Regions from separate parts of the Homo sapiens genome. Here regions 1, 2, 3 and 5 are each linked to region 4. The links come from fine-mapping of genetic effects on gene expression. A gene starts in region 4. Each other region holds a variant in brackets. All regions are shown on one strand. Distances are between the middles of the regions. Region 1 has its middle 6.1 kb from the start of GPX7. Region 2 has its middle 17 kb from the start of TUT4. Region 3 overlaps ZFYVE9 (zinc finger FYVE-type containing 9). Region 4 holds the start of CC2D1B (coiled-coil and C2 domain containing 1B). Region 5 overlaps ZFYVE9 (zinc finger FYVE-type containing 9).

Evidence for each region. PIP is the estimated chance that this variant, and not a neighbour inherited with it, causes the effect.
Region 1: its variant is fine-mapped to the expression of CC2D1B in spleen (GTEx, PIP above 0.99).
Region 2: its variant is fine-mapped to the expression of CC2D1B in subcutaneous fat (GTEx, PIP 0.93).
Region 3: its variant is fine-mapped to the expression of CC2D1B in blood mononuclear cells (TOPMed, PIP above 0.99).
Region 5: its variant is fine-mapped to the expression of CC2D1B in prefrontal cortex (BrainSeq, PIP 0.92).

Annotation. Positions count from the first base shown.
Region 1 is chr1:52,593,685-52,598,816 of GRCh38, forward strand. No RefSeq gene overlaps it. Among named protein-coding and RNA genes, the nearest start is that of GPX7, 6.1 kb to the right of the region's middle. The variant C/T (reference allele first, on the strand shown) is at 2,134.
Region 2 is chr1:52,567,312-52,572,443 of GRCh38, forward strand. No RefSeq gene overlaps it. Among named protein-coding and RNA genes, the nearest start is that of TUT4, 17 kb to the left of the region's middle. RefSeq lists an enhancer at 3,986-4,486. The variant T/C (reference allele first, on the strand shown) is at 3,081.
Region 3 is chr1:52,150,380-52,155,511 of GRCh38, forward strand. The region is part of intron 1 of ZFYVE9 (zinc finger FYVE-type containing 9); the gene reads left to right. The region is part of intron 4 of LOC107984956 (collagen alpha-2(I) chain-like); the gene reads left to right. It also overlaps the pseudogene RN7SL788P. Among named protein-coding and RNA genes, the nearest start is that of ZFYVE9, 11 kb to the left of the region's middle. The variant C/T (reference allele first, on the strand shown) is at 3,022.
Region 4 is chr1:52,363,454-52,368,453 of GRCh38, forward strand. It overlaps CC2D1B (coiled-coil and C2 domain containing 1B), which reads right to left and starts at 2,752. Exons shown (of 25, transcript NM_001330585.2): 1 at 2,616-2,752; 2 at 1,099-1,181. The coding sequence starts at 1,167. RefSeq lists silencers at 2,352-2,461, 2,502-3,131 and an enhancer at 4,944-4,993.
Region 5 is chr1:52,253,393-52,258,524 of GRCh38, forward strand. All of the region lies in intron 4 of ZFYVE9 (zinc finger FYVE-type containing 9), which reads left to right. It also overlaps the pseudogene ANAPC10P1. Among named protein-coding and RNA genes, the nearest start is that of CC2D1B, 110 kb to the right of the region's middle. The variant C/T (reference allele first, on the strand shown) is at 2,597.

The sequences.
Region 1 (5,132 bases), 230 kb after region 4:
GTGTTTCACAATACTACACTTACCCTTACTGTATAGGACATTCTCTGACTTTTTCTATTCAATTTTTTTTCCATGCTAGTCTGAGCTAGTAAGTTGATTCTGTAACTTACTAATGGGTTGCAACTCTCAGTTTGAAAAACAATGCCCTAGATGAGATACATACCACAATCATAACAAAATTACACAAAAATTAAAGTCGTAATACTCTTTAATGTGAACTTTCATGTCCTGAGCATCTGCCCTGTACAAGGTCCCATGCTGCAGGTTAGTGACAGGTTTGAATCAAACACGGTCCTGCCCTCAAAGAGCTACAAATTCCTCAAGGTAACATACAAGTAGATAGGCAATGACATCACAACAGTGATTGTCAATCCTGACTGCACCTTAAAATCAGCTGGGGTATTTTTAAAATACATAGTGCTGGGACCCTATCCCCAGACTTCCTGATTCAGTTGGTCTAGGGTGGAGCCTGGACATTAGTGTTTTTTAAAAGCTCCCCAGGTGATTCTAAGGTGCAGCCAGTATTGTGGATCATTGCAATACAGCATGATAAGTGCTACATTACATGAAAGCACAAATTGGGCTCCATGGCTGATGCCTGTAATCTAATCTCAGTTATTTAGGAGGCCGAGATAGGCCAGGAGTTCAAGACCAGCCTGGACAACATAGTGAGACCCCCACCCCCAACCTCTGAAAATATAGAAAAAAAATTAGCTGGGTGTGGTAGCCCATTCCTGTAGTTCCAGCTACTCGGGAAGCTGTAGCAGGAAGATTGCTTGAGCCCAGGAGTTGATGGCAGCAGTGAGCTATGATCACACTACTGCACTACAGCCTGGGTGACAGAGTGAAACGCCGTCTCTAAAAAATAAAAAAACAAGAAAAGGAAAGCATAGAATGGGGGCAACTACCCACCTAAATAAAAGTGTTGAGAAAAGCCTCAGAGAAAACCTGTTTTCTGAGTTGGGTTTGTGTGCTGCACACCTTCTGTCTGACTCTTTGGATCCACTGTCCACCCCCATTGTCTTCTTGGTACACTGAACCTGTACAGCTGACATTGATGGGCTCCTTTGCTCCCTGGCTTCCACTCAGGTACCGGCCAATATCCCCGAAGGAGACTGGTGAGAAAGAGGAGATGAATTAACTCCCTGGCTCCTTCCCTGTAAGTTTACCTTGGACTGGCTGTGATTCTCCTTTGAAATTAACAGCCTCAGGGAGGCTGAGGCACAAAAATCACTTGAACCCAGGAGGCGGAGTTGCAGTGAGCTGAGCTCGCGCCACTGCACTCCAGCCTGGGTGACGAAGACTCTGTCTCAAAAAAACAAACAAACAAACAAGGGAACTGCCCCTTTCAAGATGGCTTGGTGTATAGGTGTATAGGACTCTTTTTCCAGCTTCCATAATCTCTCCTCCCTCTTCCCATCCATTCAGGTCAAGAGATGTTAACAGTTCAGATAGGTTCCTGAACGATCCCTGTCTTCTCCTACACCCCACCCACACAATGGAAATTAGTCCCTGTGTAAATGAGCCTTCCTCAAATTCCCCTAATCTGAGTATCTCATCTGTTTCCTATTGAGGCCCCGATTAATAAAACCTGGAAGCCCTATAGGAACTTGCTGTAAGCACAAGGACGGGAAAACAATACAGGCAGGGGGAGCAGATGAGGAATGGCAAAGAGGCAAGGAAATGTGATTTTGTCTGTTTAATTCCCTTTATTGGTTGAAGGATAAATTGCTAAATCCCATGTTCAGGTCTCAGTCCTAATCTTCCTAGATTTATCAACAGCATTTTACCAGTTAATCCCTCTCTTCATTCTGGAACAAATCTGTCACTTAGCTTCCATGACATCGCACTCTTTTAGGTTTTTGGTCCTTCCTGTGGCTACTCTTTTTCAGTGTCTTTTTCTGGCTCCCTCATGTCTTCATCTCCAGCTGAATGCTGGAGTCCCAAGGGCTGTCCTTGGTTCTCTTTTCTCTCTATTCCAACTCACCATCATCATCCAGTACCATGGTTTTAAATATTCTGTGTGCTGTCCACTCCCAAATTTATTTATTTATTTATTTATTTTTGAGACAGAGTCTCACTCTGTCACCCAGGCTGGAGTGCAATAGCACGATCTCAGCTCACTGCAACCTC[C/T]GCCTCTCAGGCTCAAGTGATTCTTCTGCCTCAGCCTCTTGAGTAGCTGGGATTACAGGTGCCTGCCACCACGCCCTGCTAATTTTTGTATTTTTTAGTAGAGACAGTGTTTCGCCATGTTGGCCAGGCTGGTCTCAAACTCCTGACCTCAGATGATCCACCTGCCTCAGCCTCCCAAAGTGCTGGGATTACAGGTGTGAGCCACCGTGCCCGGCCCACTCCCAAATTTATATCTTGCCTTAGATCTCTTCCAATTCCTGACTCATATATCCAACCGTATCAGAGATAGGAATGGTGTCTGGAACCAGCTCCTAGAGTCAATTGTTATGTTTCCAGGACTTTTGCCAGCCTCTTGCTAACCACAGCCATTCCTAAAAATTAAATTACATTTTTAAAATTAAAGAAATTATGTTAAAAAGAAAGGTAATATTAAAAACTTATCACTTTCTAATTGTTTTACTCTATTTTATGATTTTCTGTGCTCTCAAGTTTATTGATGTCTATTCTATCTGTATTGTGGAAATACTGCATAATGGTATGCTATTCTCACATCTCTTCCTAACTCCACATTCAGTAAAATCATGTTGGAAGCTCAAAATCAACCAGGGTGGGAGTATTACACCACACATTAGCAAATGTGGCTCTCAGGGGTTGATTTATTGTTTTGTTTATTGCCTAGACTTAAGAAAGTGATGGAAAAAATGTTAATAATACAGATTAAATTGAGAGTATATTATGTCTATAGCCATTAGTCTGTGAATAACACAAAAATTAGTGTAAATATTCTTCTGGTATTGGAAACTACTCTCAGATGCCACAAAGAAAGCCTTCGTGTTATTGGCTTTATCCTTGTTCTGGCATATATCTCTACTGTTTCACTTTCATCTTACTATTAATGGAAATAAAAATATCAACCAACATTAATCTTGGAAGTATACATGTTCAGCAATTGCAACCATTAGTTGGCTATAGATATAAGAGTCTGGCCAACATCAATTAAAACGTTCTGTGGGAATAAAGTGGCCATATGGAATTTACAATAAGAAGTACTATATATTTTATTATTTGTGAATTGTGTGCTATGCATCATTTATATCAGTAAACCTTATAATAAACTTATTATACACACACACACACACACACACACACACACACGCACCTTTTTCTCCTGGAAAGCCAATTTGTAAATGTTTACTACTGCTAATAGGCAACTCAAACTTAACATGTCCAAAACTGAGCTCTTGATTTTCCATCCTGAACCAGTTCCCCCCACAAGCATCCTCATCCCAATTAATGGCAACTCCATCTTTCCAATTGCTCTGGCCAAAAACCTTAAAGTCATCTGTGACTCTTGTCTTTCTCTCATTCCCTATATTCCACCTGTCAGGAAATACTTTTGCCTCTACTTTCTTTCTTTATTTTTATTTATTTATTTATTTATTTATTTTTGAGACAGGGTCTCACTCTGTTGCCCAGGCTGGAGTGCAGTGGCATGATCTTGGCTCACTGCAACCTCCGCCACCCAGGTTCAAGCGATTCTCCTGCCTCAGCCTCTCGAGTAGCTGGGATTACAGGCATGTGCCACCATGACCAGAATCTTTTTGTATGTTTAGTAGAGATAGGGTTTCGCCATGTTGGCCAGGGTGGTCTCAAACTCCTGACCTCAGGTGATCCGCCCACCTCGGTCTCCCAAAGTGCTGGGATTACAAGCGTGAGCCACTGCGCCCTACCTTTATTTTTATTTTTAGTGACAGGGTCTCACTCTGTCTCCCAGGATGGAGTGCAGTGAAGTAATCATGCTCACTGCAGCCTCAAATTCCTAGGCTCAAGTGACTCTCCTGCCTCAGCCTCCCAAGTAGCTAGGACTGCAGGTGCACACTACCGTGCCAGGCTACTTTTTTTTTTTTTTTTTGTAGAAACAGGGTCTCACTATATTGCCTAGGCTGGTCTTGAACTCCTAGCATCAAGAGATTCTTGTTGGGATTACAGGCATGAGCCACCACACCCAGCCTCTGCTTTCAAAATATATTCAGAATCTACTTCTCACCACCTCCACTGCCCACATGTCCCCTTATGAGGATTACTGCAATAGCCTCCTGACTACTCTTCTCATTTCAGTACTGCAGTCAGAATGATTCTGGTAAAACATAAATTAGAAATGTCCATTCCCTGATTAAAACCCTTAAGTGGCCTCCCATCCCATTCAGAATCAAAGCCACACTCTTCACAATGGCTTGTAAGATGCTACAGTAGCTGTGTACCCATCCCTTACCTCTCTGATGTCATCTTCTGTTACTCTTCCCCTTGCTCACTCTGCTCCAGCCACACTAGACTCTTTGCTGTTCAGCAAACACATCGTGCCTGCTCCTGCCTCCAGGCCCTTGTACTTGCTGCTTCCTCTACCGAGACTGCTCTTCTACTTTCCTCTCTGACATTCTTTAGGTCTTTGCCCAAATACCATTTTCTCAGTGAGGCTTCCTGATCATTCAAATTAAAGTTACAATCCCTCCTTACTCTATACCATACTACTCTACCCTCTCCCCCGCTTAATGCCATGTAAAGTACTACATGTTGGCCGGTTGCGGTGGCTCACGTCTGTAATCCCAGCAGTTTGGGAGGCCGAGGCAGAAGGATCACTTGAGGCCAGGAGTTTGAGACCAGCCTAGCCAATATGATGAAACCCCGTCTCTACTAAAAATACCAAAAGAATTTAGCTGTGCGTGGTGGTGGCCGCCTGTAATCCCAGGTACTCAGAAGGCGGAGGCACAGAATCACTTGAACCCGGGAGGCAGAGGTTGCAGTGAGCTGAGATTGTGCCACTGCACTCCAGCCTGAGCGACAGAGTGAGATGCCGTCTCAAAAAAAAAAAAGTAAAGTACTGTAGGTTTTGTATGACTAGTTTTAGTTTTTATTCTTTCTCTCTCCCAACAGGCAAGGAAGAAGAAAGAAGCTCCCCCTGTACAGAGACAGAGGGAGGGGGTGATCCAAAGCCGAGAGAG
Region 2 (5,132 bases), 200 kb after region 4:
CCCATATCTTAAGAATGTTTTATAAATACAGTTTTAGCATCTGCAAAATACTGCATTAAGAGAAGGTGCCAGAGTTTGCTTAACCAGTCCCTTATTGTTGGGCATTTAAGTTACTTCTAATTTTCTTCTATTATAAATAATGCTTTTTGCATAAATGCATAAAGCACTATAAGGTTATTTCCTCAGAGAAAATTCTCAGATGTGGGATTTCTATATCAAGTAGTGTGAAAATTTAAAAGGTTCCTGATATGCACTGCCAAATTGCTTTTTAAGAGGTTTGTACTAAATTCCACTTACCCTATTATGTGGGAGAGAAAACCAACTAAATGTCCTTAAGCTTTAAAAACGATAAGTTTCTCAGAATCTCTGGGCAAGGGCTATAGCATCCACACATGTATTTTCCTTTGAAAACTAAATATTGCCTGGTAGCATAAAGTCTCAGATTTTGTGGGGAGGGGTTCACACACTTTACTTCCCTTGACATCCCCAAGAACCCAAGAAACATACCTTTTAGTCAGCTAAGTACCTCCACCTTGCAAGCCAACAATATTTTAAAGAGAAATTTTCTTAAGGTTATACAACATCAACAAACTGTCTTGCTGGGTGTCTCTAAAGTTCCCCAGAGAATAAGATCACTCACAGCTTTGGAGGGAGGACTTCTAAGGGATCCCTGAAGGGATCGCCAGTTCTAGCAGATTTAGAGCTGCAGCTCAAAATTTTTCTTGTTTGTAGAGTCTTTGGTCTAGTTCCAGAGATCCCAGCCTTAGATCTCTCCCAACATTCCTCTGGGGCCCTCCAGACATCCACAATCTCAAGAGAAATTGCAAGCTTCTCACCACCTCTCTCGCCCATACATGCTCCGGCTCCCCCCACTTCATTCGCTCTCTCTCCTCTTCTTGTTCTCCCTAGCCTCTCTTCGTATCCTCTCCTCCCCCAACTGTCTCTCTCCTCTTGCTAAGTGTGCCCTCCTGAGTCTATCTTGTAAATTTCTTTCTAAGCTTTACTTTTAATATTCTTCCTTTCTCTCTCTCCCCTCTCTCTTGGCTGAGTGTTTGTGTAACTTTTTTCTAATCCCCCACCCCGACCCCGCCGGATTGTCTCAGACTTTTAGTCCTTTCCTCCTCTCTCAAGGGGACACAGCTGACCTTTCCTAGGAGTAGCCTCTTTTTTTGTCCCCAAACTTCTCACCCCTGGGCTCTTCTATTCTCTTCAAATGGCACACATGCCATCCCTGAATTTGCAGGAGTTTCTTTCTGCCTGTTTCACGCCAAATATAGCTTTTTTTTTTTCACACCATGTTACCAAGGAATAATCTTAGTAGACCACTGTTAATACTTCTAGACCCCACCATGACTTCCTTCTGGTATTTATCCTCATCATACACTCCACGAAAGGATCACTTATATTATGCCCATATTTTCCTCATTCTATCCAAATCAGGATACATAAGAGCAGAAGTCTAAGCCTACTTATAATTACAATAAGATAGGATATTTGAAATCTGGGCTGTCCTCGGAAATCTGGGACATAATGTTGCTATAAATGCCACCTATCCAGAATCCAGCTCTCAAGCAGTTTCATAAGCAAGCACTCTGAACATCCTCAGCATTGTCAGGAAGTTTGTATATTACACTCAGACTAAAAAAGGATTTCCTCTCATTTTGTCCATTCTGGGAATCAGAATTTTGACTGCACATCAGGTGGGGTCTGGCCATCCAGGTTGCTATCTAGAAATCACCACATAGGGGGATTCTTCACAAAAAGTTTTTGTGAGCTTTTTATGAAAAATCTTTCACTGAGGCCAGGCGCAGTGGCTCACACCTGTAATCCCAGCACTTTGGGAGGCCAAGGGGCGCAGATCATCTGAGGTCAAGAGTTCAAGACCAGCCTGGACAACATGGTGAAACCCCATCTCTACTAAAAATAGAAAAATTACACGGGTGTGGTGGCAGGCACCTGTAATCCCAGCTACTTGGGAGGCTGAGGCAGGAGAATCGCTTGAACCCAGGAGGCAGAGGTTGCAGTGAGCTGAGATCGCGCCATGGCACTCCAGCCTGGGTGACAGAGTGAGACTACATCTCAAAAAAAAAAAAAAGAAAATCTTTCACTGAGAAAGGTTGAACCCAAGTCTGAAATGAAAGCATACAGTTTACTACCCATTGATTGATTTATGCAGAAATCTGTATAAAGATCTCCAAAGGTGGCTTAGTAGGTTCTGTTTTAAACTTTCAGTTCCTCCTCCCTAGAAAGTTAGGGAAACCTCTTAACCAATACGAGTTCCTCTGATCTGAGCTGAACTTTCCTTCTTCCACTATCCAAATTCTGCTGATTCTTTTCTGTCCAGGATATTCATCTAAGTCACCATGGTTGTATATGCTCAAGGTTCACTTTAAGTACAGTCTTAATCTTGTTTCTGAGGAAGTTTGCTTTCTCCAGTAGGTCTGCAAAACTTCCGCTTCTTATTTCCTATTGCCCCTGAAATGACATTTCTCCTTGTGAATTAATATGGGCCTGCCTACCTCTAGGTAATCCTGTTTTTGTCATGTATCTGTATTGCATTTTCTGTCCACTTTTGTCCTCTCTTACAGTGAAGGGAGCATTTTAAACTTTTTTGTTTCCATAGAACAGTAACTTGCTGGTTGGAAGACCCGAGTTTAACATGGACCCTCGGAGAAACATGACCCCCGGAGAAACATGGAGAGCCTGAGACATCCTGTGTAATTCAATAAATATCCACCCACTCCCACCCCCACCTTTGCTGGCTACAGCAGCTGGGGAAGTCAGAGGGAAGGAGGTTTTTTATGTTTTGTTTTGTTTTGTTTTGTTTTGGAGACGGAGTTTTACTCTTGTCGCCCAGGCTGGAGTGCAATGGCATGATCTCAGCTCACTGCAACCTCAGCCTCCTGGGTTCAAGCAATTCTCCTGTTTCAGCCTCCTGAGTATCTGGGATTACAGGCACACACCAAATCGCCTGGCTAATTTTTTGCATTTTTAATAGAAACAGAGTTCCACCATGTTAGCCAGGCTGGTCTCGAACTCCTGACCTCAGGTGATCTGCCCGCCTCGGCCTCCCAAAGTGC[T/C]GGGATTACAGGCGTGAGCCACCGCGCCTGGCCGGAAGGAGTTATTTTTGAGCATTTTATGCTGCTCAGTCTTGTGCAGACCGCACATACTGTAGAGTTCATGCACTTTTCTCCCAGTAGTGACTTTCAGCTCTTGCTTTACATGTAGTTCCAACAAGCTTGGATATTTAGTTTCCATGTCTATAGCAGATCAAAATTAACAATTAATGGGTGGGGGTTGGGAGGCCAGAATAAGATAGTTAAAAGCACAGATTCTGGAGTCAAACTGAGTCTTTGAATCCTGTGCTGCTGCTTCCTAACTGTATGACTTTGAAGTATTTAACCTTTTAGCTTCAATTTCCTCATCTGTAAAATGGGAATAATAATAATAGCTATTTTGCACAGTTGGTCATAAAGATTAAATAAGTTAATATATATGAGGTGCCTGCATTTGTAAGTACTCTGTGAGTATAGAGAGGGCGCATTGGTAACAGTACTGATGAGATGTAGCAAAGAAGCAAACCAACCAAAAAAAGCGGAGAAAACAGAGCAATCTAGGATCCAACTGTGTAAGACAGAGGTTCCCAAACTTTCTCAGCTCAAAGGCACCTTTAGTGTCTCAGTAATTTTTTCATGGTGACTTCTCCATGCCCACTCCTCCTACAAAAAAACCAAAGTAATAATTCTCTTTATTAAGTAGTTAAGTCCAAACAACTTAATCAGTATTTACATCCTAATAATTTACTAACCATTTGAAATAATAATTACATAAGTTTTTATTCATTTCTTTCTTTTTTTTTTTTTTTTGAGATGGAGTCTTGCCCTGTCACCCAGACTGGGGTGCAGTGGCACCATCTCAGCTCACTGCAACCTCCGCCTCCGGGTTCAAGTGATTCTCTTGCCTCAGCCTCCTGAGTAGCTGGGATTACAGGCGTGTGCCACCACACCCAGCTAATTTTTGCATTTTTAGTAGAGATGGGGTTTTGTCATTTGGCCAGGCCGGTGTCGAACTCCTGACCTCAGGTGATCCACCCGCCTCGGCCTCCCAAAGTGCTGGGATTACAGCCACCATGCCCAGCATTTTTTTTTTTTTTTTTTTGAGATGGAGTCTTGCCCTGTCACCCAGGCTGTAGCGCAGTGGTGTAGTCTCGGCTCACTGCAACCTCCGCCTTTTTGTAGAGATGGAGTTTGCCATGTTGGCCAGGCTGGTCTCAAACTCCTGACCTCAAGTGATCTACCCACCTCGACCTCCCAAAGTGAGGCACTACACACTACAGGGTCTGAAAGCAGGGAACATAAGTCCGATTCATTCTGACTTCCTAGAACTAAGTCAAAGGGAAAACTCCAACTTACCACACCCAAGTAACAAAAGGACCAGAGGCTACTCCCTTTGCATCCCCCACTTTTCTGCCTGGCAGATGAAAAACTGAAAGTACCTGTGATTTGTCCTCTTCTGCAACCAATCAGGCTGGTCTCAGGCCAAGTTTTCATTTGCATAGGAGTATAAGTTTGTAACTTCACTTCAGCCTCTGATTGGTCACCTTCTGCAACCAATCAGATGTTTGCATGGGTTTAACTTTGTAACTTCACTTCCATCTCTGATTGGTTGCAGAAAGCAACCAATCAGATTGGTTTAACTTTGTAACGTCACTTCAGCCTCTGATTGGTTGCCTTCTGCAACCAATCAGATTAATCACAGGCCACTTCTTCATTTACATAGGGTGTACCTCAAGTAACCAATGGGAAGCCTCTAGAGGGTATTTAAATCCCAGAAAATTGGGTAACCAGTTTCCTGAACCCATATGCTTGGCCTGCTCCCACACTATGGAGTGTACTTTCGTTTTCAGTAAATCTCTGCTTTTCTTGCTTCATTCTTTCCTTGCTTTATTTGTGTGTTTTGTCCAATTTTTTCAAGAAGCCAAGAATCTGGGCACCTTCCACTGGTAACAGAATTGCTGGGATTACAGGCATGAGCCACTGTGCCCAGCCAGTTTTTATTCTTAAATATTCATAATTATGTGCTAAGGGATGTATGTGCCTGTTTAGCAATTCCCTTCTCAAACTTTGGGATCT
Region 3 (5,132 bases), 210 kb before region 4:
CCCCACTCCAGCCTGGGCAACATAGTGAGACCTAATCTCTAAATAGATAGATAGATAGATGATAGATGATAGCTAGATAGATAGCTAGATAGATGAGATATATAGGGCCAGGCACGGTGGCTCATGCCTGTAATCCCAACGCTTTGGGAGGCCGAGGTGGATGGATCGCTTGAGGTCAGGAATTCAAGATCAGCCTGGCCAACATTGTGAAACCCTGTCTCTACTAAAAATACAAAAATTGGCTGGGCGTGGCGTTGGGCCCCTGTAATCTCAGTTACTCAGGAGGCTGAGGCAGGAGAATCGCTTGAACCTGGGAACCCGGAGGGGAGGTGCAGTGAGCCGAGATCACGCCACTGCACGCCAGCCTGGGCAACAGGGGAACATACTGTCTTAAAAAAAAAAAAAAAGAAGAAAAGATAGAACAAGCAATGTCAAAATTTTGTAAAAACACCCTGTCAGGATTTATACAAACTTTAATCTCCATTTTTCATTTTCAGTTGAGCAGGAGAAACAGTCCCTAAAAGGTAATTAAAATAAAACACTGCCAGTTTGAAACTTGAACTTCACAGTACATCATGTAGGCCTTTTTGTGATTCTGGTGATAATTGTCTTTTTTTTTTTTTTTTTAGTAGTAGTAGCCGAGGTAAATTATTTTTGAAGTTATTGTGAGGTCACTCATGGAAATTTCTGCTCAGTGTTTAAAAAGCAAGGTTGAGATTCTTTAACCTGGCATACAGCCTTCATGATTTGGTTCCAAGCTGATCATTCCTCCCTCCTGTTTTTGCATCCTGTTCTTCCAAGATTCCAGGTTTATGGAGTTTTCCTTGATTCTTTTACCTTGTATTACTTTTTGTGGAATATAAAAGCTTTCCCTGTAGTGTGCCATCTTTCTGGTAAGTGTTTCACATATGTTATTTGTAACTCTTACTAAGGATATTATAAGGTCATTATATTATTATGCATTTTACAGCTGAGGGAACTGAGGCTTGGAGAGTTTTATTGATTTTCCTAAGCTTAAGCCCACATTGATGATTCAAACTTATATATCAAGCTCATATATCTCTGACTAGAAAGTCCACACTCTTTTTTCATCCTGTGAATCTTGTCCTGTGTCTATGTGTGTGTGTATGTGTGTTTTTTCTTTTTTTTTTTTTGAGATGGGGTCTCGCTCTGTCATCCAGGCTGGAGTGCAGTGGTGTGGTCTCGGCTCACTGCAACCTCTGCCTCCCGGGTTCAAGCAATTCTCCTGCCTCAGCCTCCCGAGTAGCTGGGACTACAGGCACCCACCACTACACCTGGCTAATTTTTTGTATTTTTAGTAGAGACAAGGTTTCACCATGTTGGTCAGGCTGGTCTGGAACTCCTGACCTCAAGTGATCCACCCGCCTCGGCCTCCCAAAGTGCTGGGATTAGAGACATGAGCCACCTCTCTGAGCCCATCCAGGATTTCTAAAGTATGTTCCCTAGGAGCAAGGAGATGTTCTTTAGTCAAATAAGTTTGGGTTTTCAGCTTACTATATATCCCTTAGGTAGAAGTTTGCAAATGCACGTTAGTATTCTAAAGACTGAGGAGTGGAAGAAACTTGTTTAACTTTGTTCAGCTATGTATTACCCCAATTTTTTTTTTGAGATGGAGTTTTGCTCTTGTTACCCAGGCTGGAGTGCAGTGGCACCATCTTGGTTAACTGCAACCTCCGCCTTCCAGGTTCAAATAATTCTCCTGCCTCAGCCTCCTGATTAGCTGGGATTACAGGCATGCACCACCATGTCTGGCTAATTTTTGTATTTTTAGTAGAGATGGGATTTCACCATGTTGGCCAGGCTGATCTCGAACTCCTGACCTCAGATGATCCACCTGCCTCAGCCTCCTAAAGTACTGGGATTACAGGCATGAGCCAGTGTGCCTGGCTATATTACCCAAACTTATTTGGTTGTGGAACCCCTTTTTTCCACGTAGGCCTTAGTAATTAATACCCTTTACTGATGTAGGTCAACTTTTACCTGTTTTTTAAAGTCTCACCCTCACCGTATCCGAGACTTTGAACTCTCAGATGATAGGCCCTGATTACTTCCTGAAGGTGCTCATTCTGCACGTTATTAGAATATTAGCAGTATTATTTCTTTTTATATTCAGCCAAAAATCTAGCTTTTTTTCTAGTATATATCCTTTTGCTCTTTTACTCTTTAAAATTACACAGAATAAATAATCACTCTTAATATCTAAAGATGACAAGACAGTATCCTGTCTCTCCCAGCATAGTGATTAAATTACAGGCTCTAGAGTCAAACTGTCTGGGTTCAAATTTAATTCTCCTTTCACTTTGTGATCTTGGGCAAGTTAATAACTTCTTTGTGCTTCAGTTTTCTCACCTGTAAAATGGGACTAACAATAATACATCAGTGGGTTAAATAAACAGATACATGTAAAGAGCTAAGTACATAGTGTATTGGTTCAGGTCCGCTGGGAAGCAGACGTTGAAATGGATGTAGTAGCACAAGAGGTTTTATGGGATGGAATGCCTATGAAAGGAAATGGGGAGAAAGCAGAATTGCCTAGGGAGAGCCTCAGTCTGTGATGCAGATCTGAAAAAATCTCAGTCAACCTAACAGGGAACTTCAGAGCACATATTGCCTGTTAGAGGAGGCCTGCATGGGCAGAAATGGCCAGATTTTAGTACACCCACCATGTTTAGTCACTGGCTAGAGCTGCCCAAGGAGAGCATGGTCATGACTGGGAAGCTGAGATGAATTCTGAACATGCTGCAGCTGGAGGCTGTTAGCTAACCAAACTCCTTGGACCTGAATGGCAATTCTTTTTTGAAGGAAGATCCAAGTGATTGCTACAGTCCATTCCTCATGATGCACAGATCCATATCTTCACAGTTTCTGAGAGCAGCTCCTCCAAGGGAGGAAATGTAGAAAGAGATTAGTGAGACAGGCCTCAGGCTCATCACTGTAGCTGGTCTCAGAGCCACAAAGTTCTAGAGCCATCTCCACTATGTAGTCTAAATTGCCCTTGCC[C/T]TCAGCTATCATTTCTGCTGGTGTTGGTTGTTTACCTAGTGGTTTGACCCAAACCCTCATTTCTGAGGGGTCTGAGACTGGAGTGGTTGCATTTGCCCATTCATAGTCACTACTGGGCAGGGAGTATTAAGTGGTATCCTAGGGAATCATCTGAGTCCCACACATATTCTTTCTTGTTCCCTTTGTGTAACGGCAGCCCTACTTCCTCCTGAGGATGAGGGTTAATTAATCTTGCCAAGATGGGCATTCCTCTTACTGCTTTCTAGTCCTTGGACACAAGGAATACTCAGTATTCAGGCTGCAGCTGTAAATTGTAGTTCACTGTGACCTTTCATGTGTCTCTTGGCAAAAGTGTGCCCGCTTTGGGTGCCAGGACTTCTAACTCCGTAGAGCCCCACATTGCAGAGATGGGAAGCACAAAGTAGATCATTGGGAATGATGGCGAGTAGGGGCTATTTCCCTTTCCACTTCTTGGTTCTCAGACCCATGTATTCTTCTTACTGGGAACCTAGCTCTAAATCAGTGCATGTACTGCATACAAGAGGATAGCACACCATTTTTGTCTCTGAGCTAGTACATTAGCTGTGCCTGCAGCAGGCCATTCCAATACTCTCTAAGACTGGTCCTTTTGTATGGAGCTGTTATGGATATAACTACTGGAGCTTATGGTTATGGGCCTACTGCCACAAATCTTTCACTGTGAAGTGATTCCCTTGGCTGGATTCCATGTCTGTTGATTAAGTGCTGTATAAGTCTATATTTAGTGGTACTGGCTAGGTCTCTATGGACAGGAAAGGCAAACCCATACCTGGAATAAATGTCTAATCCTGTGAAGATCAATCACTGGCCCATCCAAGATGGAAGAGGCCCAGTGTAGTCAGCTTACCACTTAATAGTCTGTTGGTCTGCCTGAGGCATAATGCTATATGGGGGCTTGGTGTTGGTCTTTGTTGCTCATAGGTTGGATGTTCAGAGTTGGCCTTGGTAAATGGGAGTCCATGTCTCCTTCTCTGCTTCCATCTCTATTTCTGCCACAGTGACCTCTCCATTTATGTCCCCATCTTGCCACTTCTGGGTGACCGATGTCAGCTAGTTGAGTCATTTTGTCTCCTTGGCTGTTCATTGGCTCTTCTGTATTGGATACTTTCTGGTGGGCATTAACACATGAAACAAAGATTTTCATACTTTCCACCCACTCCCATATATTCATTCATTTCCCTCCACCCATACCCCTTGCCTTTGTCCTTCTCCTTAAAGGCCTCTAACCAGTTGGCCAGTCTACTTGCCATTGCCCGTGAGTCTATATATTCTCACCCCAGGCCACTTTTCTTTCTGCATAAAATTCATAACCAGGTGCACGACTCAAAGCTCTGTCTGTTAAGAAGATTTTCCCTTTTCATTGTCAAGGTCACCCCTAAGTGTGGCTATAATGAACTCCGTTGTTTTTTTCAGCTTGCATTCACATACTGAGCTGACCTACTTATAAGCAAAACTTTGGCTTTTTTCTCCTTCTTAAGTTGGTCTTATAGGATACCCCAAATAGCTATAGATGTGAGCTGAGGAAATGGTGCTAGTATGGTGAGTGCCAGGGAAGTCTTGGCTGCCTGCTTATAGCAGTCTTCTTGTGCCTTTTGGTTCTGTTTCATTTTGATCCTTGATGTGCCATTCCTATCTTATAATGGATTGCTGCTATGCTCACCTGGCTTTATGACCTGGCGAGTCCTAGTGAATGCAGATCATTATGGAAAGTCTGGACACATGGTGCCCAGTGATGAAGCATTGTATCTCTTAATAGGACACAGTTGCACACCAGGAGCTGTTTTTCTTTTTTTTCTTTTTTTTTTTTTTTTTTTGAGACGGAGTCTCGCTGTCGCCCAGGCTGGAGTGCAGTGGCGCGATTTCGGCTCACTGCAGGCTCCGCCCCCCGGGGTTCATGCCATTCTCCTGCCTCAGCCTCCCGAGTAGCTGGGACTACAGGCGCCCACCACCTCGCCCAGCTAATTTTTTGTATTTTTAGTAGAGACGGGGTTTCACTGTGTTAGCCAGGATGGTCTCGATCTCCTGACCTCGTGGTCCACCCGCCTCGGCCTCCCAAAGTGCTGGGATTACAG
Region 4 (5,000 bases):
ATGAAATTTACCATCTTAACCACTGTTAAGGGTGAGTTCAATGGCATAAGGACATTCACAATATCCTGCTACCATCGCCATCATCCATCCACAGAACTGTTTTCATGTTGTGAAACAAACTTTCTACCCATTAAACATTAACCCCCCTTCCTCCCCTCCTTCCAGCCTCTGGTAAGCACCATTCTTCTGTTTCCATGAATATGACTACTCTAGGTAGAGGTACATCCTTTTTTTTTTTTTTTTCTGAGACAGAGTCTGGCTCTGTCGCCCAGGCTAGAGTGCAGTGGCACTATCTTGGCTCACTGCAACCTCTGCCTCCCGGGTCTAAGCGATTCTCCTGCCTCAGCCTCCCAAGAAGCTGGGAATACAGGCACATGCCACCACGCCCAGCTAATTTTTGTATTTTTAGTAGAGATGGGGTTTCACTATGTTGGCCAGGCTGGTCTCAAACTCCTGACCTCAGGTGATCCACCCACCTCGGCCTCCCAAAGTGCTGGGATTACAGGCGTGATCCACGGCACCCAGCTTACATTCTGTTTTTATCCCAATGTTCAGATGAAACTGAGACAGTCTTGTGAGACAATCAGAATTTAAAACAAGCTCTTTGCGACTTGAGTCTATGCCCTTTACCCCACCTCCTTTCTTACCTGCCTTTTTAAAGACAGTAAAAATGGACTAAGAAGTCTCAAGATGTAGGCCCAGAAGAAATAAAGGAAGAAAATTGGAGAGGAGACCCCCCTGTTCTTCCACTTGGGGCACAGCCATCTGTCCCTAGGCAGTGAAGTCCTCCCACTGACTACAGCCCTCATGCCCTGGCATCCCTGGCTAACAAGCAAAGTTGTGACCCTATCTAAGGAACCTTTGAGAGCACTGAGGTCCCATCAGAACATCCTAAACTTTGGTGATTCCTGAACCCTCTCCCCACTTGTATGTGGAAGAGACTAGTAGGAGGGTGTCTAAGGGCTCTGCCACCTCCAGGAGGCACTGCTCCAAGTCTCTGAACTAATGGGGGAACTACATGTGATCCAGTTTGCCTAAGTTGTCTAGGGACCCCCATCCCCAAACCGACCCAGTAGCCTAGAAGGCTAAGTTCCATACCTGCTTGGCAGCGGCCACCCCTTGGCCTCTGGCCTGAGGGCCCTTCCGAGGTCTTGGCCCTGGCATCATGGCAGCCTAGATACCTATGGAAGAGTTACAGAGATTCAGGCTGGAGTAGCCCATAAGCCACGCCCCCAACAGTGCTACCCGTGGTAAGGTGTGGATAGTAAACTCCCAAAGAAGGCAATGCTGAACACCAAAGTATGGGTTACCTTTAATTAAAGCACTGAAGCAGCACAGGCCATGGGAGGGATGGGGATCACCTGTTAATGGGTTTACTGAGGAATGTTCTGAACGGACTCAAATTTAAAAAGCACATTCAGGGAAGTACTCTAGGTTCAGGGTGGGTGGAAGGCTGGGTAGAATTCAGAAAGGCTCTAAAGCTGTGCTTATGGAAGCCACAGCTGGCTATTTAATTTTAAATTTCAATGAATTAAAATGAAATAAAGCTAAAAATCCAGTCCATCAGCCACAACAGACACATTCCAAGTGCTTAACAGCCATATGTGGTGAGGGGCTATGACCAGACAGCACACACACAGAACATTTTCATCATCCAAGGACATGTCATCAAAGTTCCATCTCACAGCTGAGCTCTGGAGAAAGCTGGCTCAGCATTCTGATTCCCATAAAGATCTCACAGTTATTCACAGGACCTCCTGTGTCAGACCTTGCGCTGGGCACTGGGAGCGCAGAAATGAACCTAAGACGGTCTCAGCCTTCAATGACCATTTACAGGGTGGAGGTGGACTACACGGGGTTGCCCCAGGGGCCATGGGTGCCCTGAGGTGACCCCTTCTTCAGCCCTGGGAGAAAAGGCTCCTCCTTCGAGGCGGTGACGCCTGAGCTGAGTCACGCAAAGAAGTTGGGGGAAAGAGGGAAATAGGATTCCAAGACGAGGGAACACTTGACGGCTCTGAAGTGGGGAGCAGCTTGGCCTGTACAATGGAACCTGAGGCCTGGTATGACTGGGGCATAAGCGGTGAGGCCTGAATGCACAAGCCGAGGTGGAAATGTGAGCAAGCGGCAGAATATGAAAACCTCTAAGCCGAAAAGCGTTTGGGCATTATTCTGAGGGCGCTGGGAAAGAAGTGGCGGGATCGTATCGGTGTTTCAGAAACCCCATTCTGGCACCAAAGGGGAGGTGCACAGAAGGTAGGGGGAAAAGGCAGGAAGCCGGCGCATCTCGCCACAGCGCTGGCGGGGAGACCAGCTGACGGGCGTGGAGGCGGCGGGGAGCGGGCGGAGGAGCTGGCGGGCGCTCCGGGGGACTCTGAGTGTCAGATTTCGGGAGTGACTCCGGCTCAGGTGAAAGCGAGGCCAGACACTCCAAGGCTGCGGCCCCGATGACACAGCCAGGCCTCACGGAAGGTGGGCAACGGAGTCCGTAGGGGGAGGCGACACGGGACCCCCACTCCCGCGCTGCGGGACGCGCCGCCCTGCCCCGCCCGCGCCGCCTCCATCTACCCCCGCGGTCCCCAGAACTCCCCACGCCGAGGGGCGGGGACGCGGCATACCTCGCGGTGAATCCGAGCCAAACCCCGGCCTTGTCTCACCCGGCACCGCCCTGGGCTCCCGCGGGCCCTGGGCCGCAGCGGTAGCGACAGGAAGCGCCAGCAGGGGAGGTGGCTCGCGCGCAACACGTGACCCCACTGGCCGGCGGCCGGCAGTGCGCATGTGCACGGCTACGCGGGCGGGGGGCTCCAACAGGTGACACCGGGGCGGGGTTCGCAGCGCGCAGGCGCGTTCGGGTAGGTAGCGCAGGACAGGAACTCTGGGCGGTTCCGCCGGGGCGTCCACCGGCCGGCTCCAATGAGGTCGCTGCGCCCAGCCCTCGCCCACTTGCAGCCTCTCCACCGAACCTCCTCCCTCACTCAGCCCGAGGCGCTGGGCGCTCGCTCGCTCGCTGGACCTACCCCGCCTCCAGCCCTCGCCCCGCCCCACCGAGCAAGAGGGCGGGGCCTACCCAAGCTCCGCCCTGGAAGAGAGACAGGGGCGGGGCTCACCTGCTTGTCCATGTCCTTTAAGCCTGGGGAAATGGAAATGGGGCCCACCATATGTTTCTTAATAATTCAGCACCTGAAAGTATCCTTTTCCGGTCCGTTGAAAACTTCAGACAGGCAGAGCTCGCTGCACATCTTAAATACTTTACAGAGTCTAACACTAAGTTCTCACTCGCCTACCCTGCTGTGCAATCAAATGGCATGGAGGATATTAAGGAGAGAAACGGAGTATACCCGTTTTCTGCCAAGCTTGTGTCAGTCACTTTTCATAATGGAGCTTATACCAGTTCTCAATCCTGCAAGATGGACATCATCTCTAGAAGAAACGGAGGCTCAGAGAGAATTATTTGCCCAGGGAAATACAAAACCAACCTCTTTAGCATCAGTAAATATGCTCTAGTCTAGTTTTCTAAGGAAAGCACGTTTCTCCCTGCGGCTTGCAGAGTCCAGTTAACAAGAGATTGAGCTCAGGAGTCCGAGACCAGCCTGGGCAACATGGCGAAACCCTGTCTCTACAAAAAATTACAAATATTAGCCGGGTGTGGTGGTGCGTGCCTGTAGTCCTACCTACTGAGAGGCCGAGGCAGGAGAATCGCTGTGGCCCCGGAGGTCCAAGCTGCAATGAGCTGTCAACTGCACTCCAACCCGGGTGACAAGGTGAGACCCTGTCTCAAACTAAAACAAACAAAAAAACCGAGAGCGGAGTAATGGGGAAGTGGCCAGATTCCCATCTAAAGTAACCACTTCGATTTTGGGGGGAAAGAGAACGGCTTAAAAGGAAAATTTGATATGGGAAGCATGCAAGAATTGTACAGAGTACAACGTCTGTGTGTCTTGTTCTGGTGGCTATCTTGGGTCCCAGCCTACCTGGAGCGTGGGCTGGTCTCATCTCCACAATGGCCCCGCTGTTGACTAGCCACCTTGAAGTAATCTTTGGAATTTTGCAGCTGTGTCTCCAGGCTTGGTTTGTCTGTCTCAAGATTAGCCCTTGGAACTTCTCAGAAGGCAGATAATTAAATACTAGCATACAGTAAGATAAATGTGAAGGGAGTATATACAGTGAGAAAGGGAGGGATATGGGGTCTATTTTACAGCTAAGGGAAAAGGCTTTTGCAGTTTGCTTCAAGGTTGTATCTTGAAACCCAAGAGAAAGGAAAAAAAGTTTTAAAATGTATTTTAAAGTTAAACTGCTGGATTAGTTTCTTCTGTCTAAAACATTGCCATCTCCTCTCCTGCCTATGCCTTGAACTTTTAAATTATGTTTTCTAGTTAGCGATCTCCCAGTTTACTTGGACAAAGGGCTTTTCCATCTCCTGATTGCTTACTTTTTTTCTTTTTTTTTTTTTTGAGACAGGATCTCATTCTGTCACCCAGGCTAGAGTGCAGTGGTGCGATCTCCACTCACTGCAACCTGCACCTCCCAGGCTCAAGCAATCCTCTCACCTCAGCCTCTTGAGTAGCTGGGACCACAGGCACGTGCCACCATGCCCAGCATTTTTTTTTTTTTTTTTGTAGAAACATGTTTTTGCTATGTGCCCAGGCTGATCTCAAACTCCTGAGCTCAGGGGATCAACCCACATCAGCCTCCCAAAGTGCTGGGATTACAGGCGTGAGCCACCATGCCCTGCCCATTACCATATTTAAATTGAGATTTCACATCCATATTTCTCATTCCTTTTAAAATTATTTAAAAATTTTTATAATGAAACATTTAAGATATAAACAAAGATACACAATATTTAACATTTACTAGAATGCAAGCTCCAGAAGGAGAAATTTTTTTATTGCTTCTCCAAGTGTCTCGTGTCTACAGCAGTGCATGGTACATAGTAGGCACTCAATAGTTCCTTGTTGTGTGAATTAACTACATGGACATCTATTACCAGTTTAAGGGAAAAA
Region 5 (5,132 bases), 110 kb before region 4:
GAGGTAGAAATTAAAATTTTTAAAATTTTATGCCTATATAACAAAAAATAGAAAATGTTGATAGTATGATAGATAGTGAAATTGACACTGGCATATTTACACATTTAAAAAGCCACACGTGGGTCGCTGGGGAACCCAGGCTGTCCTAGGAAGCCGAGTGGGAGTGGCACAGAGCTGCTGGAGATCCTGAGAACCTGAGTTTTGGCAAGCAGCCAGAATACTTAAAAAATGACCACACCAAACAAGGCACCTCCTGGTACTGACCCTGAGCAGTTGGAAAAGACTGGAACAGTACGGGAAATTGGGTCACAAGCTGTTTGGTCACTCTCATCTTGCAAACCAGGATTTGGAGTGGATCAGTTACGAGATGACAATCTAGAAACTTATTGGCAATCAGATGGCTCCCAGCCTCATTTAGTGAACATCCAATTCAGAAGAAAAACAACAGTTAAGACATTATATATTTATGCAGACTACAAATCTGATGAAAGCTATACTCCAAGCAAGATTTCAGCCAAAGTAGGAAATAATTTTCACAACCTTCAAGAAATTCGGCAACTTGAATTGGTGGAACCAAGTGGCTGGATTCATATTCCCTTAACTGATAATCATAGGAAGCCAACTTGGACGTTAATGATACAGATTGCTGTTCTAGCCAGTCATCAAAATGGAAAAGACACCCACCCATATGAGACAAATTAAAATATACACACTGGTAGAAGAGAGCGCCATTGGTAAATTTCCTAGATGTACAACTATAGATTTCATGATGTATTGTTCAATAAGGTGACTTTAAAATGATATGGAAGTCATTAAACGTATCTTTGTTTTATCCTGTCTTTAAATAGTATATCAGTTACCTTTATTGAAAAAAACATCAGTTATTTGCAACTTTATATATATTTAAAAATATTTTATTGTAATTTTGATAAATTTGGGTCATATTATCTTTAACATGTAATAAAGCTCACATATTTTACATTACTAAAAAAAAAAAAAAAAAGCCATATGTGTGGCTGGGCGTGGTGGCTCACACCTGTAAATCCTAGCACTCTGGGAGGCCGAGGCAGGCAGATCGCTTGAGCCCAGGAGTTCAAGAGCAGTGTGGGCAACATGGCAAGACCTCATCTCTGCCAAACAAAAGGGGACGTATGTTCCAATTTTTTGAGCTAATGATTCCTTTTTTGAGTAAATAATTCTTAAAACAAGTGCAGTAAACAAAAAGATGTGTATTTTAGTGTTACTAAATAGCAAATACATTTAAAGTAATTTGTGTCCAAAATTGGATAATGGGCCAGGTGTGGTGGCTCATTCCTGTAATCCCAGCCCTTTGGGAGGCCAAGGTGAGAGGATCACTTGAGCTCAGGAGTTCGAGACCAGCCCAGGTAACGCAGTGAGACCTCATCTCTACTAAAAATTAAAAAATGGCGGGATGTGGTGGTACATGCCTGTAGTCCTAGCTACTTGGGAGGCTGAGGTGGAAGGATTCCTTGAGCTTAGGAGTTCGAGACCAGCCTGGGCAACATAATATCTCTGCTAAAAATTAAAAAATAGCTGGATATGGTAGGGCATGTCTGTAGTCCCAGCTACTTGGGAGGCTGAGTTGGGAGGATCACTTGAACCCAGGAGGTCGAGGCTGCAGTGAGCCATGATTGTGCCAGTACACTTCAGCCTGGGTGATAAACGAGACCATGTCTCAAAAAAAAAAAAAAAAGGTTAATGGTAAGTTAAGTACAATACATATATTTGCTTCAGCCATTAAAAATTATTACAAGGCAGTGTAGAAAATGCTTATGATGACATATGAATAGAACAGAATGCAAGCTTATGCTTTGTTTACAATTAAATTATTCTTGGGCATAAAAACAGATATGTCTGAAGGAAACATATTTTTAAAAAGTAATTTTAGAGCCAGGCACGGTGGGTCATGCCTGTAATCCCAGCACTATGGGAGGCTGAGGCGGGCGGATCACCAGAGGTCGGGAGTTCAAGACCAGCCTGACCGACCTATGGAGAAACCCTGACTCTACTAAAAATACAAAATTAGCCGGGCATGGTGGCACATGCCTGTAGTCCCGGCTACTCAGGGGGCTGAGGCAGGAGAATCGCTTGAACCTGGGAGGCGGCGGTTGCGGTGAGCCGAGATCGCACCATTGCACTCCAGCCTGGGCAACAAGAGCAAAACCATCTCAAAAAAAAAAAAAAAAAAGTAATTTTAGGCTGGATGCAGTGGCTCATGCCTGTAATCCCAGCACTTTGGGAGGCCGAGGCAGGTGAATCACCTGAGGTCAGGAGTTCAAGACTAGCTTGGGCAACGTGGCAAAACTCCATCTTTATTAAAAATACTAAAATTAGCTGGGTATTGCGGCGCGTACCTGTAGTCTCAGTTACTTGGGAGGTCGCAGTGAGCCGAGATTGCATCACTGCACTCTAGTCTGGGTAACAGAGAGAGACTCTGACTCAAAAAAAATTTTTTTTAATTCATTGAGTTTGAGCTATTTTGCTTTTTTCTTTTCTTTTCTTTTCTTTTCTTTTCTTTTCTTTTCTTTTCTTTTCTTTTCTTTTCTTTTCTTTTCTTTCTTTCTTTCTTTCCTTC[C/T]TTCCTTCCTTCCTTCCTTCCTTCTTTCCTTTCTTTCTTTCTGTCTTTCTTTCTTTCTCTCTCTCTCTCTCTCTCTTTCTTTCTTTTCTTTCTTTCAGATGGAGTCTCGCTCTGTCTTCCAGGCTGGAGTGCAATGGCGCGATCTCAGCTCACTGCAGTCTCCACCTCCTGGGTTCAAGTGATTCTCCTGCCTCAGCCTCCCAAGTAGCTGAGATAACAGGCGTGTGCCACCACCACGCCTAGCTAATTTTTGTATTTTTAGTAGAGACGGGGTTTCACCATGTTGGTCAGGCTGGTCTTGAACTCCTGACCTTGTGATCTGTCCACATCAGCCTCCCAAAGTGCTGGGATTACAGGCATGAGCCACCATGCCCGGCTCTTTTTTTTTTCTTTTTCTTTTTTGAGACAGTTTTGCTCTTGTCGCTCAGGCTGGAGTGCAGTGGCACAACCTCAGCTCACTGCAACCTCTGCTTCCCTTCCCAGGTTTAAGCAATTTTCCTTGCCTCAGCCTCTCAAGTAGCTGGGATTACAGGCATGTGCCACCACGCTCAGCAGATTTGTATATTTTTAGTAGAGATGGGGTTTCACCATGTTGGCTGGGCTGGTACAGCCTCAGTTGGATATAATATTGAAAGTCTGAATTAGAGATCTCTTTTAACCCTTTCTGTAATGGACACTTAAAATGACTCTGATAATTATTATTGTTTTCTATTAATAACAGTGAAGTTTAAACAGGTGTTTAGACAGAGGCAAGGGTCTGGATTTGTTTGAACTGCTTTAGATCTTATGATACTGATTTTTGCTATGTGCTAATAAGTGGAGGGATAAAGTACTCCTGCATTTGACAATTTTTATAAGTTGTTACTTTCACTGGTCTTTGTGAACAGCTGGACACTGGTCAGTTCTATGCACTCTCCTCTCCTGTTTTTATTATTCTCACATCACAGTTATTTTTGTCATAATTATAGGGCTTTTTGAAGACCTGGGACATCATTTTTTGCATTTTCTAATTTGGAAAGAAATAAGTGAGCATTTGATGATTTGAATTTTCAAGAATTGCAAAGGAATAAGTGTTATTCACACTGTAAGAGGGTATAAATAGGCACAAAGTGGTACTTTGAATATAAAGCATGTTCACAGATTTAGCAATAGGATTTGTTATGTGGAAAGCCTGTAGTGGGAAATTTTAAAAGGAAAGGAAAGGGAAATAAGAAAGGTACCAACATACATTTAGAACCTATTATATGCTACATTTTATACATATAATTTCATTTAATCTTCATAAAAGCCATATGAAGGAAATACTGTATTAGCATTTCTATTTTACATGTGAGAAAAACTAAGACCTAGAGAGTTTAAATTATTCCCATAAGGTCATCTGACTAGAGAATAATCAAGTTGAAATAGGAACACAGAAGTGCCACATTTAAAAAAATTACATATAAACACACAAATGGAACCTTTTAACCAGTACTTAGCTGGAACATCGTATAGAATATATATTATAAATTACCTTACTTTGTCTCTTTATGCTTAGGCAGGTCATACGGATCCTGCCATATGATGTCAGCTGTAACCATTAGGCATAAAAATCTTGAGGTCATTCTTATAAACAGATTAAAATGTGTTGTTGCAAAAGTTGAATGGCTCTAGATTATTTTCTGAATTTGGATATGAATCATATAGTCCTTCCCCAAAAAGTTTACATTAATGTTTGTTTCTCCATTCATACATTTATGTATTTATGTATTTATTTATTTTTTGAGACGGGGTTTCGCTCTTGTCTCCCAGGCTGGAATGCGGTGGCGCGATCTCTGCTCACTGCAACCTCCACCTCTTGGGTTCTCCTGCCTCAGCCTCCTGAGTAGCTGGGATTATAGGCGCCTGCCACCACTCCTGGCTAATTTTTGTATTTTTAGTAGAGATAGGGTTTCACCATATTTCACCAGGCTGGTCTCAAACTCCTGACCTCAGGTGATCCACCTGCCTTGGCCTCCCAAAGTGCTGGGATTACACACATGAGCCACTGCACCTAGTCCCAGTCATACATTTATTTATGCAATAACTTTACTTTTCAAGGAAGCAATAAGCAAATATTTACTGAGTACTATGTTTCAGACACAATATTGAAGATACCAGTATTAAAAATAATTTAGCTCATTATTCCATGGAGTTTACATTCTAGTGTGGGGAAATGGAGAATAAGTTCAATCAGTGCAGTAGATTGTGTTGTGATAAAGATATATGGCATATGGTAAGATATTTCAGCAGTATAATTTAAGTTCAGGTGTGCAAATATGTAATTTTCTTAATTTTTAGAACTGACTTTACTTTTTTACTCTAAGCCTGTAGCTTAGAGAACTGGGGAAGGTACTTAGATGGTATATGGAATATAGTGGGGTATTTTTAGTTGTCAGAATGACTGAGGTTGCTACTGGCATTTAGCAACCTGTGCATACCAAGACTGCTAAACATCTTGCTATGCCCAGGACAGTACTGTCCTATGAAGAACTGGCCCACCTAAAATGCCAAGAGT